4 linked regions of the Homo sapiens genome follow. The protein of the gene in region 3 purifies or fractionates together with the protein of the main gene of each other region. This does not show direct contact. Each region holds a gene or a part of one and is shown on either strand. Other genes may lie near its edges.

Evidence for each region. The genes of interacting proteins can lie anywhere in the genome.
Region 1: the proteins of ARHGAP19 (region 3) and LRP2 purify together in Homo sapiens (affinity purification with mass spectrometry; 2 studies listed by BioGRID and IntAct, with this or other methods). This does not show direct contact.
Region 2: the proteins of ARHGAP19 (region 3) and CBY1 purify together in Homo sapiens (affinity purification with mass spectrometry; one large-scale study listed by BioGRID and IntAct). This does not show direct contact.
Region 4: the proteins of ARHGAP19 (region 3) and RNF41 purify together in Homo sapiens (affinity purification with mass spectrometry; 2 studies listed by BioGRID and IntAct, with this or other methods). This does not show direct contact.

Annotation. Positions count from the first base shown.
Region 1 is NC_000002.12:169,128,535-169,132,034, reverse strand, and holds part of LRP2 (low-density lipoprotein receptor-related protein 2 precursor), read left to right. Parts: intron 1-2,950; coding exon 2,951-3,022; intron 3,023-3,204; coding exon 3,205-3,372; 3' UTR 3,373-3,500. UniProt on the Homo sapiens protein: Multiligand endocytic receptor. Acts together with CUBN to mediate endocytosis of high-density lipoproteins. Mediates receptor-mediated uptake of polybasic drugs such as aprotinin, aminoglycosides and polymyxin B.
Region 2 is NC_000022.11:38,663,138-38,666,637, reverse strand, and holds part of CBY1 (protein chibby homolog 1), read right to left. Parts: intron 1,093-3,500; exon of another isoform or gene 953-1,092; intron 1-952. UniProt on the Homo sapiens protein: Inhibits the Wnt/Wingless pathway by binding to CTNNB1/beta-catenin and inhibiting beta-catenin-mediated transcriptional activation through competition with TCF/LEF transcription factors.
Region 3 is NC_000010.11:97,282,638-97,286,137, reverse strand, and holds part of ARHGAP19 (rho GTPase-activating protein 19), read left to right. Parts: intron 1-3,500. UniProt on the Homo sapiens protein: GTPase activator for the Rho-type GTPases by converting them to an inactive GDP-bound state.
Region 4 is NC_000012.12:56,211,923-56,215,422, reverse strand, and holds part of RNF41 (E3 ubiquitin-protein ligase NRDP1), read left to right. Parts: intron 1-1,352; 5' UTR 1,353-1,375; coding exon 1,376-1,465; intron 1,466-2,284; exon of another isoform or gene 2,285-2,427; intron 2,428-3,500. UniProt on the Homo sapiens protein: Acts as E3 ubiquitin-protein ligase and regulates the degradation of target proteins. Polyubiquitinates MYD88. Negatively regulates MYD88-dependent production of pro-inflammatory cytokines.

The sequences.
Region 1 (3,500 bases), on a different chromosome or scaffold from region 3:
TGGTGTTTAATACTGGAGATTGAAAGAAAAAAATGCCACTAGATGGAGCTTCTTAAACATGCCTGCAGGTCCTTTGCAATTGGTACACTATTTGGTCTGCAGGAAGAAATTCAATAAATATATTTGATATTAAACTCTGTATTAATGTATATCATTAGTTTTAATGAATGCATTTGCAGCTATACCAGATATAGCTGTTTGAATCTGGACAAACTGTTTTACTTCTGGGGCTAGAGTCCTCAATAATATTTCTCACTGGGGGCGCTATTGGCATATTGAGTGGGACAGTTCTTTGTGCTACAAAACTGTCCTATGCACTCAGGGAATTTCAGTATTTCTGGTCCCTGTCCACTAAATTCCAGTAGTGTCTCCCCTAATTCAGTGTGACCCCAGAAATCACCTCCCCTCCCCAACACATGTGCACTCACTCCTGGTTGAGAACCGCTAGGATCTGGAATGTCTCTGTTCTAAGATTCTATGACCAATTTTGTGAAGTAATGTAAAGAAATGAAAGTCTAAGAGTAGTTGGAAATTTTACCATTTTATACAATCTTTATTTCTCAAATTTCATAGTCTATAAACATTGATATCTTGGTAACTTGGCAGTCTCATTATCACCTTAAACATTGGTTTCTGTTCTGCTGATTTAAATCAAAATAAAATTTGACCTAAATTGATGCTGAGAAGAGTCTATATCAAGGCTTCTGTACACCTTCTCAAATTCCCTTATTTCTTCTTCTCATGTCACACACACACACACACACACACACACACACACACTCATACACTCACAGACATACATAAATATTGTCTAGAAAGGAATTTTCAGTTTCAGATTTTTCAAGGGACTAAACATTTTTTCTTTAAGCTATATTAAAAATGGATTTTGAAGATTAATTTTCCACAGACACACGGATGCTTGAATGTCATATATTTGGTCCTCCAAGCCTGAGTCAACCCCAAGCTAGTGCCAGATTTATTTTATATTTTCAACATTTTTTCTCAGTCCATCTCTAGTCTAGTGATCTTCTTCACTAAATAGACATTTTCCCCAGCTGGTGCAGGAAGGGGACTGTGGTGGGGAGGCTGTAACCTCTGATCTGCATGTCTGTTATCAGAAACAAAATGTAAACTGACAGTCTCTTTCAAAGGAGAGCAGATCTTCACCAATTGTAGTCCTTTCTTTCTCTTCCCTTTTGTAATACCTTGGTTCCTCCTCTTACTTTTTTACATTAGTGAGGCTGAGACCCTCTAAAATGTGTCTTCCATGTTATGTCCAGGGATCTCACTGTATTTCTTCCCTCCTGGGCACTGAGTTAACAGCCAGCATGCTTTAAAAGCAGTAGAGGCGCTTGGGTGAGATCACCTAGGTTGATTTGAATATGCCAGAGTCCCACAAATGTATCTTTCATCCATAAATATGTTGAAAGACTAACAATTAAAAACATGGGCTGGGCACGGTGGCTCACACCTGTAATCCCAGCTCTTTGGGAGGCCGAGGTGGGTGGATCATGACATCAGGAGTTCAAGACCAACCTGGCCAACATAGTGAAACCCCATCTCTACTAAAAATGCAAAAATTAGCTGAGTGTGGTGGCATATGCCTGTAGTCCCAGCTATTCAGGAGGCTGAGGTGGGAGGATTGCTTGAACCCGGGAGGCAGAGGTTGTAGTGGGCCGAGACTGTGACACTGCACTCCAGCCTAGGCGACAGAGTGAGACTTCATCTCAAAAAAAAAAAAAAAAAGATTCAGTTCTATCATTTTCCAAAAGTTACATTGATATGCATAGGATCCCCCAAGGAGACAAAAATGAAAGTCACCGTCCCTTTCCTCTTGTTAGTAATTGCTTAACTTCAAGTTAGCCATTTCATTTTGAAGCAATGACATCTAAGAGACTTTGGCCCGCCCCACTTAACTGTAAGCGCCCAGAGGCAGGGCTCTGACCTGAATGTCTTCATGTTCCCCTTGGGGGCACTATGTACAAAGCAGGTTCTCACTTGAATGTGGGTTAAAGTGAAGACCTCTTCTACTTCTGTAGCCCTGTGTTCCCCACTCCTCCACAGGCTGGTCCCCTGCTGTCACAGAGTAAGAGACACCCCATAAAACCTGTGGGCTCCCTCAGCTCCTGTTGAGAGTAGGCTGTCTGTTCCCTTGTCTCCCACCAGGTTTTTATCTGGCAGTCAGCATGACAGGCAACTTTTCAGTAAAGCGTGGGCCACGCACCATGGTCCAGGGTGATTATCTTTGGGTTCTCCAGTTTATGGGCCTCTGGGTCCCCTGAGTAATCATTACCTGCCCTTCTACCTGCAAGTTAGTTGTATAATCTTGCTGTGACTCAGCAAGTATAGGATAATAAGTGTACCTACCTCTGGGGTTTGTTAAAAAAAATCAGAAACTTGTAAAACTCTTAGAATAGTTCCTGACACATAGTAAGCACTCAATAAATGTTAGATGTTTTTGTTATTATTATTGTGACACAGGAGGGAATGATGAAGGGAGAAGGGATACTCTTGAGTTGACCAAAGAATGTTACTTTAGGGAATAAGAGTTACAGTTTGGCTTTGCCATCTCCACCCAATTTTCAGGCAGCCCCAGAAATCTCTTTTTCTCCAGATGCATCTTGTGCATGTCTGTTTTATGTGTTCTCTCTGTACTGAGGTAACCAGGTGATTTGCTTGTAGATACTATGGCACAAATTCTATAATATATAAATTTGAAGTCAAAGAAGTGTTTAAAACCATTCGATTAAAAGAGCCCAGAGTTTCAGTTACTGTTCAGGGACCATAGGAGGAATTGAACAATTTACCATATGGGCTGAATCACATGGTCCCAGGTCCCAAATTGCTTTACCCTTCAGTAAGAAGAAATTTTAAAACTGAGACAGGAGGAAAAGAAACCCACAAAATAATTCCATTACTGAGAGGTTTTTGTTTTCCCCTTTTCATTTAGGTGACAAAATGGAATCTCTTCAAACGAAAATCTAAACAAACTACCAACTTTGAAAATCCAATCTATGCACAGGTAATTTTTAACAATTTTTCTTAGCACAGACATTTTTTCTTAGAAATTATTTGCTTGGTTAAATTGGACACACACTTAGATTATTCTGAGCAGAGTGGCCACAAATAGTCTTCTTTATGAAAAACCGTGTATGGTGACCTTGGGGGAATAAATGGCTGATTCCTGTTACATTGTATTCTTAGATGGAGAACGAGCAAAAGGAAAGTGTTGCTGCGACACCACCTCCATCACCTTCGCTCCCTGCTAAGCCTAAGCCTCCTTCGAGAAGAGACCCAACTCCAACCTATTCTGCAACAGAAGACACTTTTAAAGACACCGCAAATCTTGTTAAAGAAGACTCTGAAGTATAGCTATACCAGCTATTTAGGGAATAATTAGAAACACACTTTTGCACATATATTTTTTACAAACAGATGAAAAAAGTTAACATTCAGTACTTTATGAAAAAAATATATTTTTCCCTGTTTGCCTATAGTTG
Region 2 (3,500 bases), on a different chromosome or scaffold from region 3:
TTGTCACCAGTGTCACTTGTCAACAGTGCACCTCATATGTCACGTTACCTGTTCTGTTATGGAAGGTGACGTGAGGTGTCCTGAAAAGGGGGCAGGTCCACGACATGGCGGAGCTGACAACAACACCCCCCCAACCTGTACATTTGCTTTTAGCATAATGCAACCTATTGCAATTCACCTAGGCCTAGTTAAGTAGATTTCCTGATAACACCCTGGTTTTTGGGGAGAAAAGGAGGGGAGAAGCAAACTTTTTATTTAGGCTGGGAGCAGTGGCTCACACCTGTAATCCTAGCACTTTGGGAGGCCAGGGAGGGAGGATTACTTGAGCACAGGAGTTCAAGACCAGCCTGGGCAACTTAGCAGGGCCCGTCTCTACCAAAAAAAGGTTAAAAAAGAAAAAAAAATATATATATATATAACATTAATACAGAAAAGTCTACCACAAATCATAAGTGTAAGGTTTCATGAGTTTTTACTACACAAGTATAACCACCCTCCAGGGCCAGGCGTGGTGGTTTATACCTGAAATCCCAGCACTTTGGGAGGCCAAGGTGAGAGGATTGCTTGAGCCCAAGAGTTCAAGACCAGCCTGAGTGACACAGCGAGACCCCCATCTCTAAAAAAATTAAAATCAAGTATTTTTTAAATTTTATTTTTTATTTATGATTTTTTTTTTTGAGACAGAGCCCTGCTCTGTGCCTCAGCCTTGTAAATAGCTGGGATTACAGGTGTGTGCCACCATGCCCAGCTAATTTTTGTATTTTTAGTAGAGACAGGGTTTTACCATGTTGGCCAGGCTGGTCTCGAACTCCTGACCTCAAGTGACCTGCCCACCTTGGCCTCCCAAAGTGCTGGAATTACAGGTGTGAACCAACGCACTGGCTCAAAACATTTTTTTAAAACCACCCTCCAGATTGGGATACAGAGCATTTCAGCACTCCATAAGCCTCACCTGGCCACTGTACATGCACAGAATTGCACAGTGAGTCCTCGTTTGCATCTGGCTTCTCACACTCAACGTCATGTTTCTGACATTTATCCATGCAGCTGTGTGTAGTTATAGTTTGTTCATTTGCATTGCTGGATAATATTCTATTGTATAAACACAGCAAAATTTACTTGTCTACAGAAGATGGACATTTGAGCTGTTTGCAGTTTTGTTTTGTGTTTCTTGAGACAGGGTCTCGTTCTGGTCCCCCAGGTTGGAGTGCAGTGGTACCATCTCTGTTCACTGTAGCCTCAACCTCCCAGGCTCAGGTGATCCTCCCATCTCAGCCTCATGGGTAGCTGGGACTATAGGCACGCACCACCATGCTGGCTAATTTTCTGCATTTTTAATAGAGATGGGAGTTTCGTCATGTTGCCTAGTCTGGTCTTGAACTCTTGGGCTCACGTGATCTGCCTGCCTCAGCCTCCCAAAATGCTGGAATTACAGGTATGAACCACCACACCCGGCCTGTTTCCAGTTTTTGACCACCAAAAATAGTGCTGCTAGGCCAGGCATGGTGGCTTATGCCAGTAATCCTAGCACTTTGGGAGGCCAAGACAGGAGGATCACTTGATGCCAGGAGTTCAAGACCAGCCTAGGCAACATAATGAGACCTCATCTCTACAAAAAATTGAAAAATCAGCCAGGCGTGGTGGTGTACCCTTGTAGTCCTAGCTACTCAGGAGGCTGAGGTGGAAGGATTGCTTCAGCCCAGGAGTTTGAGGCTGCAGTGAGCTGTGATCACCACTGCACACTTCAGTCTGGGCAACAGAGCAAGACCCTGTCTCAAGAAAAAAAAAAACTACTGCTAAGAACATAAGACTTGAGCATGTATATCTACATGCATATGTACACTTTTCTGGTTCCATACTTAGGGGTATAACTATAGAGTCACAGAGCATTCATATATTTAGCTTTAACAGATTCTGCCAAATGGTTTTCCAAAGTCATTGTACCAATTTAGACTCCTATCTGTAGTTTGCAAGAGATCCTTGTCAATATCTGGCACTTTCTTTTTCATCTTTTCCATTCTGGCAGGTATGTAATGGTGTTGCATTGTTTAATTTGCTTTTCCCAAATAACTAATTAAGTTGAGCATCATTTAACATACTCCTTGGACATATATGGATTTTTTTGTGGCATGCTTATTCATGTATTTTGCTTTTTTTTTTTTTTTTTGAGATGGAGTCTCCCTCTGTCATCGGGCTGGAGTGCAGTGGCACAATCTCAGCTCACTGCAACCTCTGCCTCCCAGGTTCAAGTGATTCTCCTGCCTCAGCCTCCCGAGTAACTGGGATTACAGGAACACACCACCATGCCCAGCTAATTTTTGTATTTTTAATAGAGACAGGGTTTCGCTATGCTGGCCAGGCTTGTCTCGAACTCCTGACCTCAAGCAATCTGCCCGCCACAGCCTCCCAAAGTGCTAGGATTATAGGCATGAGCCACCGCGCCCAGCCCTCTTTTGCCATTTTTTAAAATTGAGCTGTCTATCATGTTCATTTTGTAAGGGTTTGTAAGGGTATTTATATACGCTGGATACAAGTTTCACTACTGTATATATGTACAGTACTGAAAATATCTTCTCCCACTTTTTTCTTTTTGCTTTCTCCTTCTTTTTTTTTTTTGAAACACAGTCTCGCTCTGTCACCCAGGCTGGAGTGCAGTGGTGCTATCTTGGCTCACTGCAACCTCTGCCTCCCAGGTTCAAGAGATTCTCCTGTCTCAACCTCCCAAGTAGCTGGGATTACACACACCTGCCACTAAACCCAGCTAATTTTTGTGTTTTTAGTAGAGATGGGGTTTTGCCATGTTGGCCAGGCTGGTCTCGAACTCCTGACCTCAAGTGATCCACCCACCTCCGCCTCCTAAAGTGCTGGAATTACAGTCATGAGCCACTGCGCCCGACCTCTTTTTGCTTTCTTTTTTTTTCCTTTTTTTTTTTTTTTTTTGGAGACAGAGTTTCGCTCTTGTGGCCCAGGCTGAAGTGCAATGGCGCCATCTCAGCACACCGCAACCTCCACCTCCCGGGTTCAAGTGATTCTCCTGCCTCAGCTTCCCAAGTAGCTGAGATTACAGGCATGCGCCACCACGCCCGGCTAATTTTTGTATTTTTAGTAGAGACAGGGTTTCTCTATGTTGGTCAGGCTGGTCTCGAACTCCCAACCTCAGGTGATCCACCCACCTCAGCCTCCCAAAGTGCTGGGATTACAGGTGTGGGCCACCGCGTCCGGCCTCTTTTTGCTTTCTTAATGCAACCTCCGCCTCCCGGGTTCAAGCGATTCTCCTGCTTCAGCCTCCCAGGTAGCTAGGACTATAGGCACGCACCACCACATCCAGCTAATTTGTGTATTTTTAGTAGAGACGGGGTTTCACCATGTTGGCCAGGATGGTCTCAATCTCTTGACCTCGTGATCCACCTGCCTCGGCCTCCCAAAGTGCTGAGATTACAGGTGTGAGCCACAGCTCCCAGCCAGAAGTTCTTAATTATAATGAAATCCAATTATTTATT
Region 3 (3,500 bases):
TATCTGAAGGGTAATGAGGAGTAGATTTCTTCAGGGGATTTTCTTGAATCTGGTTTTATTTTACATTTTATCAATGATCAGGTTTAGAGAGTTTGATCATATTTGTAAATAAGGCCTGTCTTGGAAGGAGGGGAAGGAAGAAAACAGAATTTTAAAATTAATCTGCATAAACTGGTAAGTGGCATGAAACCACAGCATAAAGCAAAGCAGATATTGTTGCACAAGTTTACTTTGGTCAGAACAATTGGGTCGGTAGTGTTATAAAGAGTGATATAGGAAATCTGTAAACTTTTTGCTGTAAACATTACATTTGGCTTAGGCCAAGCATGGTGGCTCACGCCTGTAATCGCAGCACTTTGGGAGGCCGAGGCGGGCAGATCACTTGAGGTCAGGAGTTCGAGACTAGCCTGGCCAACATGGTGAAACCCTGTCTCTACTAAAAATATAAAATTAGCTGGGTGTGTGGCGGTTGCCTATAATCCCAGCTACTAGGGAGGCTGAGGCAGGATAATTGCTTGAACCTGGGAGCTGGAGGTTGCAGTGAGCCGAGATTGTGCCACTATACTCCAGCCTGGGCAACAGAGGGAGAGACTCTGTCTCAAAAAAAAAAAAAAAAAAGCAAAAAAAAAAAGAGAAAATTATCTAGGTATGGTGGCACATACCCGCAGTCCCAGCTACTTGGGAGGCTGAAGCAGGAGGATCACTTGAGCTCAAGAGTTTGAGGCTGCAATAAGCTAGAATGCCGCCACTACACTCTGGCCTGGGTGACTGAGACCCTGTTGTTAAAAAAAATAAATAAAAATAAATTTGTTTTAAAAAATTGTATTAAAAAACATAACAGTTTATCATCTTACCTATTAAGTGTGTAGTTAATTAATGTTAACTACATTCGCATTGTTCTGTGTCCAGCCATTTTTTATATGGAACATCTACAACCTACAAATCCATTGAAGCTTTAAGAGTATATACTTTCGGCCTTGCACAGTGTCTCATGCCTGTAATCCCAGCACTTTGGGAGGCGGAGGCGGGCGGATCACCTGAGGTCAGGAGTTTAAGACCAGCCTGGCCAGCATGGTGAAACCCCGTCTCTACTAAAAATACAAAAAATTAGCTGGGTGCAGTGGCATGCACCTGTAATCGCAGCTACTTGGGAGGCTGAGGTAGGAGAATCGCTTGAACCTGGGAGGCGGAGGTTGTGGTGAGCTAAGATCACACCATTGCACTCCAGCCTGGGCGACACAGCGAGACTCAGTCTCACAGGAAAAAAAAAAAAAAAAAAAAAGTATATGCTTTTTTTTCTTTCTTTCTTTTTTGTTAAGAGTATATAGTTTGGCTAAAAGTGGTGGCTCTCATCTGTAATCCTACCACTTTGGGAGGCTGAGGTGGTAGGATCACTTGAGCCCAGGAGTTTGAGACCAGCCTGGGCAACCTAGCAAGACATTGTCTCTACTAAAAATAAAAATAGTTAGCCAGGCGTGGTGGCACATGCCTCTGGTCTCAGCTGCTAGGAAGGCCGAGGCAGGAGGATTGCTTGAGCCTGGGAGGTCAAGGATGCACTGAACCGTGAGTATGCCACCATTCTAGCATGGGCAATAGAACAAGACCTTGCCTCAAAAAACCCCCAGTATATACTTTTTTCCCCTCTTCCCCACTATGAAATAAACTTATATAATATTTACTACAGAAGGCTAGAAAAATATGTAGAAAAAAATGGGGGCTGGTCTGAGTGTCTCACGCCTATAATCCCAGCACTTTGGGAGGCCAAGGTGGGCAGAACACTTGAGGTCAGTAGTTCGAGACCAGCCTGGCCAACATGGTGAAACCCTGTCTCTACTAAAAAGACAAAAATTAGCTGGGCATGGTGTCGCACATCTGTAATCCCAGCTACTTAAGAGGCTGAGGCAAGAGAATCGCTTGAACCTGGGAGGCAGAAGTTGCAGTGAGCCAAGATTGCACCACTGTACTCCAGCTTGGGCAACAGAGTGAGACAATGTCTCAAAAACAAAAAGCAAAAAATACAAATAAAAATAAGAGAAAAAAGCTAGGTGTGGTGGTGTGCACCTGTAGTCCCAGCTACTGGGGAGGATGAGGTGGGAAGATTGCTTGAACCTAGGAGCTTAAGGCTGCAGTGAGCTATGATGACACCACTGTGCTCCAGCCTGGGTGCCAGAGTGAGACCCTGTCTCTAAAAAAAAGAAAAAAAAAGGAAAGAAAAATATGTAGAAAAATGGTAAACTAGCCACTCCAATTTACCAGATAGATACAACCATTATTAATATTGAGACAGTTTTTTTTTTTTTTTTTTTAATAGAGATGAAGTTTCACTATGTTGTCTAGGCGGTCTCAAACTCTTGGGCTCATGTACTCCTCCCACCTTGGCAACCCAAAGTGCTGGGATTACAGGTGTGAGCCACCATGTCTGGTTCCTTCTGAGTCTTAAACTGTAATGCCTCTTATCTAAAATATGACCCATCCAAGATCTGATTTCTATCTTGGTTTCCCAGTTTCCTCCCAATAAGTGCATCATTTCTGGTTGGAAACAGTATAGCAAAAGAGTGATTGAAATACAATTTTTTTTTTTTTTGAGACAGAGTCTCACTCTGTTGCCCAGGCCGGAGTGCAGTGGCATGATCTCAGCTTGCTGCAGCCTCCGTCTCCTGGGTTCAAGCAGTTCTCCTGCCTCGGCCTCCCGAGTAGCTGGGACTACAGGCATGCGCCACCATGCTGGCTAATTTTTGTATTTTTAGTAGAGACGGGGTATCACCATGTTGGCCAGGTTGGTCTCGAACTCTTGACCTCATGATCCACCCACCTCAGCCTCCTGAAGATGCCCTCTGGTCACCTTCAGTGAACACTCTCACCTACACTTTTACTAACCATCTTTTAGGGTGGGTTGTTTCTACAGATGCTGGAGCCTATTTATTTTGTGCTGATGTTTTGCTACTGTTACCCGATATAAACTAAATTCAGCTAGGCCATAGAAACTACATAGTAACAGCCGGGCGGGTGGCTCACGCCTGTAATCCCAGCACTTTGGGAGGCTGAGGTGGGTGGATTGCCTGAGGTCAGGAGTTCAAGACCAGCCTGGCCAATATGGTGAAACCCCGTCTCTACTAAAAATACAAAAATTAGCCAGGCGTGGTGGCAGACGCCTGTAATCCCAGCTACTTGGGAGGCTGGGGCAGGAGAATCGCTTGAACCTGGGAGGTGGAGGTTGCAGTAAGCCGAGATCGCACCACTGCACTCCAGCCTGGGCGACCAGAGTGAGACTCTGTCTCAAAAAAAAAAAAAAAAAAAAGAAAAAAGAAACTACATAGTACTTTAAACAGAGAACATTTAATAGGTTATAAACTATAACTGGGGATTCGAGTAACAAGGAATTGGCTAGTAAGAAGTAAAGAGATCTCTAAGAAATATAGAAATAGATACAGGAATCAGCTGAGTTAGAATGTACAAGGAAGAGGGTCCCTAGGGCAGAGTTCCAGACCTTGCTGGAGATG
Region 4 (3,500 bases), on a different chromosome or scaffold from region 3:
ATCCCCATCACCACCACCACCTAAGTTCAGACTCTTACCGTCACTCTCCTGACTTAGATGTTCTTCCGGTCTCCAGTTTCTCCCCTGTTAACATACTGATTCTAAAATGGAACTATTATCACATTGTTTTTTAAGTCCTTCAGTGGCTCTCTCATACCCTTCAGAATAAAGTCCAAAATCCTCACAGACTTTTCACAGCATGGCCCTTGCTTGCCTCTCCAGCCTTGTCTCTTGACAGGCCCTCCCTCCCACCTCTCAGGTCAGCCTTTTCTTGAATCACTTGAAATTCTCTGAACCTATCATATGCCCTCTTCTGGGCATTTGGATGTGCTATTTTATGTGCATAACACCCTAATGCCCTGCTCCCCCAACATTTAGCTGACTCTTGCCCTACAGGACACGTTTCTGGTGACGCCCAGTCCTGGAAAACTTGTCAAAACCACCCTCTGCTTTCAGCCTGGGTTAGGTATTCATGTCTCTTGTCCTCATAAGGTCCTGTCTCTACTCTGAGTATTTATCACTTTATATTTTAAATGTGTGCTTATATAATGTCTTCCCCCATTAGAATTACATTTCTTTTTTTCTTTTTTTTTTAAGGCAGAGTCTTACTCTGTTGCCTAGGCTAGAGAGCTGTGGTGCAATCTCGGCTCACTGCAGCCTCTGCCTCCTGGGTTCAAGTGATTCTTGTGCCTCAGCCTTCCAAGTAGCTGGGATTACAGATGTGCATCACCACGCCCAGCTAATTTTTGTATTTTTAGTAGAGCTGGGTTTTCATCATGTTGGCCAGGCTGGTCTTGAACTCCTGACCTCAGCTCATCTGCCTGTCCCGGCCTCCCAAAGTGCTGGGATTACAGGCGTGAGCCACTGTGCCAGGCCTTAGAATTAATTTTTTTTTTTTTTTTAGAGACTGAGGCTCGCTGTGTTCCCCAGGCTGGAGTGCAGTGGCGCGATCTCGGCTCACTGCAACCTCTGCCTCCTGGGTTCAAATGCTTCTCCTGCCTCAGCCTCCCGAGTAGCTGGGATTACAGATGCGCATACCACACCCAGCTAATTTTTGTATTTTTAGTAGAGACAGGGTTTCACCATGTTGGCCAGGCTGGTCTTGAACTCCTGACCTCAGGTGATCCGCCTGCCTCGGCCTCCCAAAGTGTTGGGATTACAGGCGTGATCCACTGCACCTGGCCAGAATTAAATTTCTTGAGTCAGCTTCCACCGAGCCAAATGACTGCTGCATAGTAGACTCCCAGTAAATATTTGTTGGATAAATGAATGGATCTTGGCAATGAGTGTATGTTTGTCACATATTTGTAGGCTTCTTCTGAACTGGCCTCTTTTTCCTGTTGTCCTTTCAGGACCTGGGTTTCAGTGATGAGACATGGGGTATGATGTAACCCGTTTCCAGGGGGATGTTGACGAAGATCTTATCTGCCCTATTTGCAGTGGAGTCTTGGAGGAGCCAGTACAGGTGAGTTGGTCTGATGGCAGGTTTGGTGGGGCAACAGGTAGCAGTGGAACTAGTAGAAAATATTCATGGGCAGCGGGACCCATGGTGAAGTCACTGTGTTCTTCTCTCCACCCTCACCCAATAGAGATTTAGGTCAAAGGAGTAATGGTGACTACAAGAATAAGGCCTTCCAGAATCAATCTAGAGGTGGATGCCACAGAGATCCAGTGGTTCAGATTTTTTTCTGAGGTCACTCTGAAAGATTTCTCCTGTAAAACAGTCAGCTGCTTGTTTCTGTCTTGTGATAGTAGCTGGGTAGCTTCCTTTCCTCTACAGGAACTCTTACTAGGTTCCATCTTCCTGTCCGTGATTGAACTTCTGGACTCTCCTAATAAGTTCTCTCTGCATTTTTATGATGTAGTGCTTCAGGTAATCAGCCAGGCTCCCTGCAGGCCTCTTCTACCTGCCTACTGTCTAACAAATAGGAAGGCTGGGCACAGTGGCTCACACCTGTAATCCCAGCACTTTGGGAGGCCAAGGTGGGTGGATCACGAGTTCAAGAGCCATCCTGGCCAACATGGTGAAACCCCGTCTCTACTAAAAATACAAAAATTAGCTGGGCGTGGTGGCACACACCTGTAGTCCCAGCTACTCAGGAGGCTAGACAGGAGAATTGCTTGAACCCGGGAGTAGGAGGTTGCAGTGAGCCGAGATTGTGCCACTGCACTCCAGCCTGGGTGACAGAGTGAGACTCCATCTCAAAAAAAAAAAAACAAAAACAAATAGGAAGTGGGGAACTGTATGTACTGACCTATTTTTTTCCTGGGATCTACTGAAAAGACCAGCTTTTGATACAGCCATGCACTCTGCATTTTGATGTGAAAGCTGCCACCTTCAATAGGTCATTTCTCTGCCAGCCTTGCCAGACCAGAGTCAGTTGTATCATCCTGGGGCAAGTATGAGGAGAAGCTCACGATTACCAGGCAAGTACAATGAGTGAGGTGAATCCTTAAGAGTTGTATTCATGGGACAGCATCCTCCAGGATCCTTATTGCCCTCATTCTGTAAATACCAATTAATCCTTTCTCTTTCCTGGCTATCTAGAGATTATCACATTTTCCAAACCAGGACACTAGGCAATGAGGTTTCATGGCCCTTCCCCCATTCACTGCTCACCTAACTCCCAGGGGCTCCCCTTGAGCCTTTATTTTTTCTCCCAGTACTACTCCAAAAGGAGTACTGATGCCTTGAGCTGAATAAAATTCAGACTGCATTCCAATGGCAACCAACTCTGGACCTGTCTTCTTTCTAGGCCTTTGCAGTCTGCTGCCATTAGAGGCATATTAGATGGGTGTGGAGCAAGTCATCAAGTAGTAGTGTCAAGAGGTCACAGGGTGTGTCAGGTTCCCTCCTCACCCTGGCAGGGCCTTGTCTGTTTTCTGGCACTATCATTTTAGGCAAGTCACTTATGGAAAGGTGAGTCGTAGTTGGTGACAGTCTAGTCAGAAGCCACCCATCTACCTCCAGGCTTTATCTTCTGAGGAGCAGAGCAGGCAACCCTCATGATGCCAGGTTCCCAGACACATTTCTAAGGTTAGAAGGCTCCTGCTAGGGATGCTGATTTCCCCACATCATAATTATTTATTTTTTGAATAGGTGAAAAATGAACATAGTTCAGAAATCAAAAGGTATACAGTGAGAATTCTCACTTCTGTCTTTATTACTGTGCACCTAATTCCCCCACAGATAACTATTTTTATTAGTTTATTTGGTATCCTTCCAGTGTGTCTTAAGGCAGATATAAGCAAATATGAATAGATGTCTGCATATATATGTATTTGTGTATACATATGTATATATGAATATATCTGTGTTTCACCATGTTGGCCAGTCTGGTCTTGAACTGATCTCAAGTGATCTGCCTGCCTTGGCCTCCCAAAGTGCTGGGATTACAGGCATGAGCCACCATGCCCGGCCTTATTTAGCTTTGTTTTGTTTTGTTTTTTTGAGATGGAGTCTCACACTTTAGCCTAGGCTGGAGTGCAGTGGCATGATC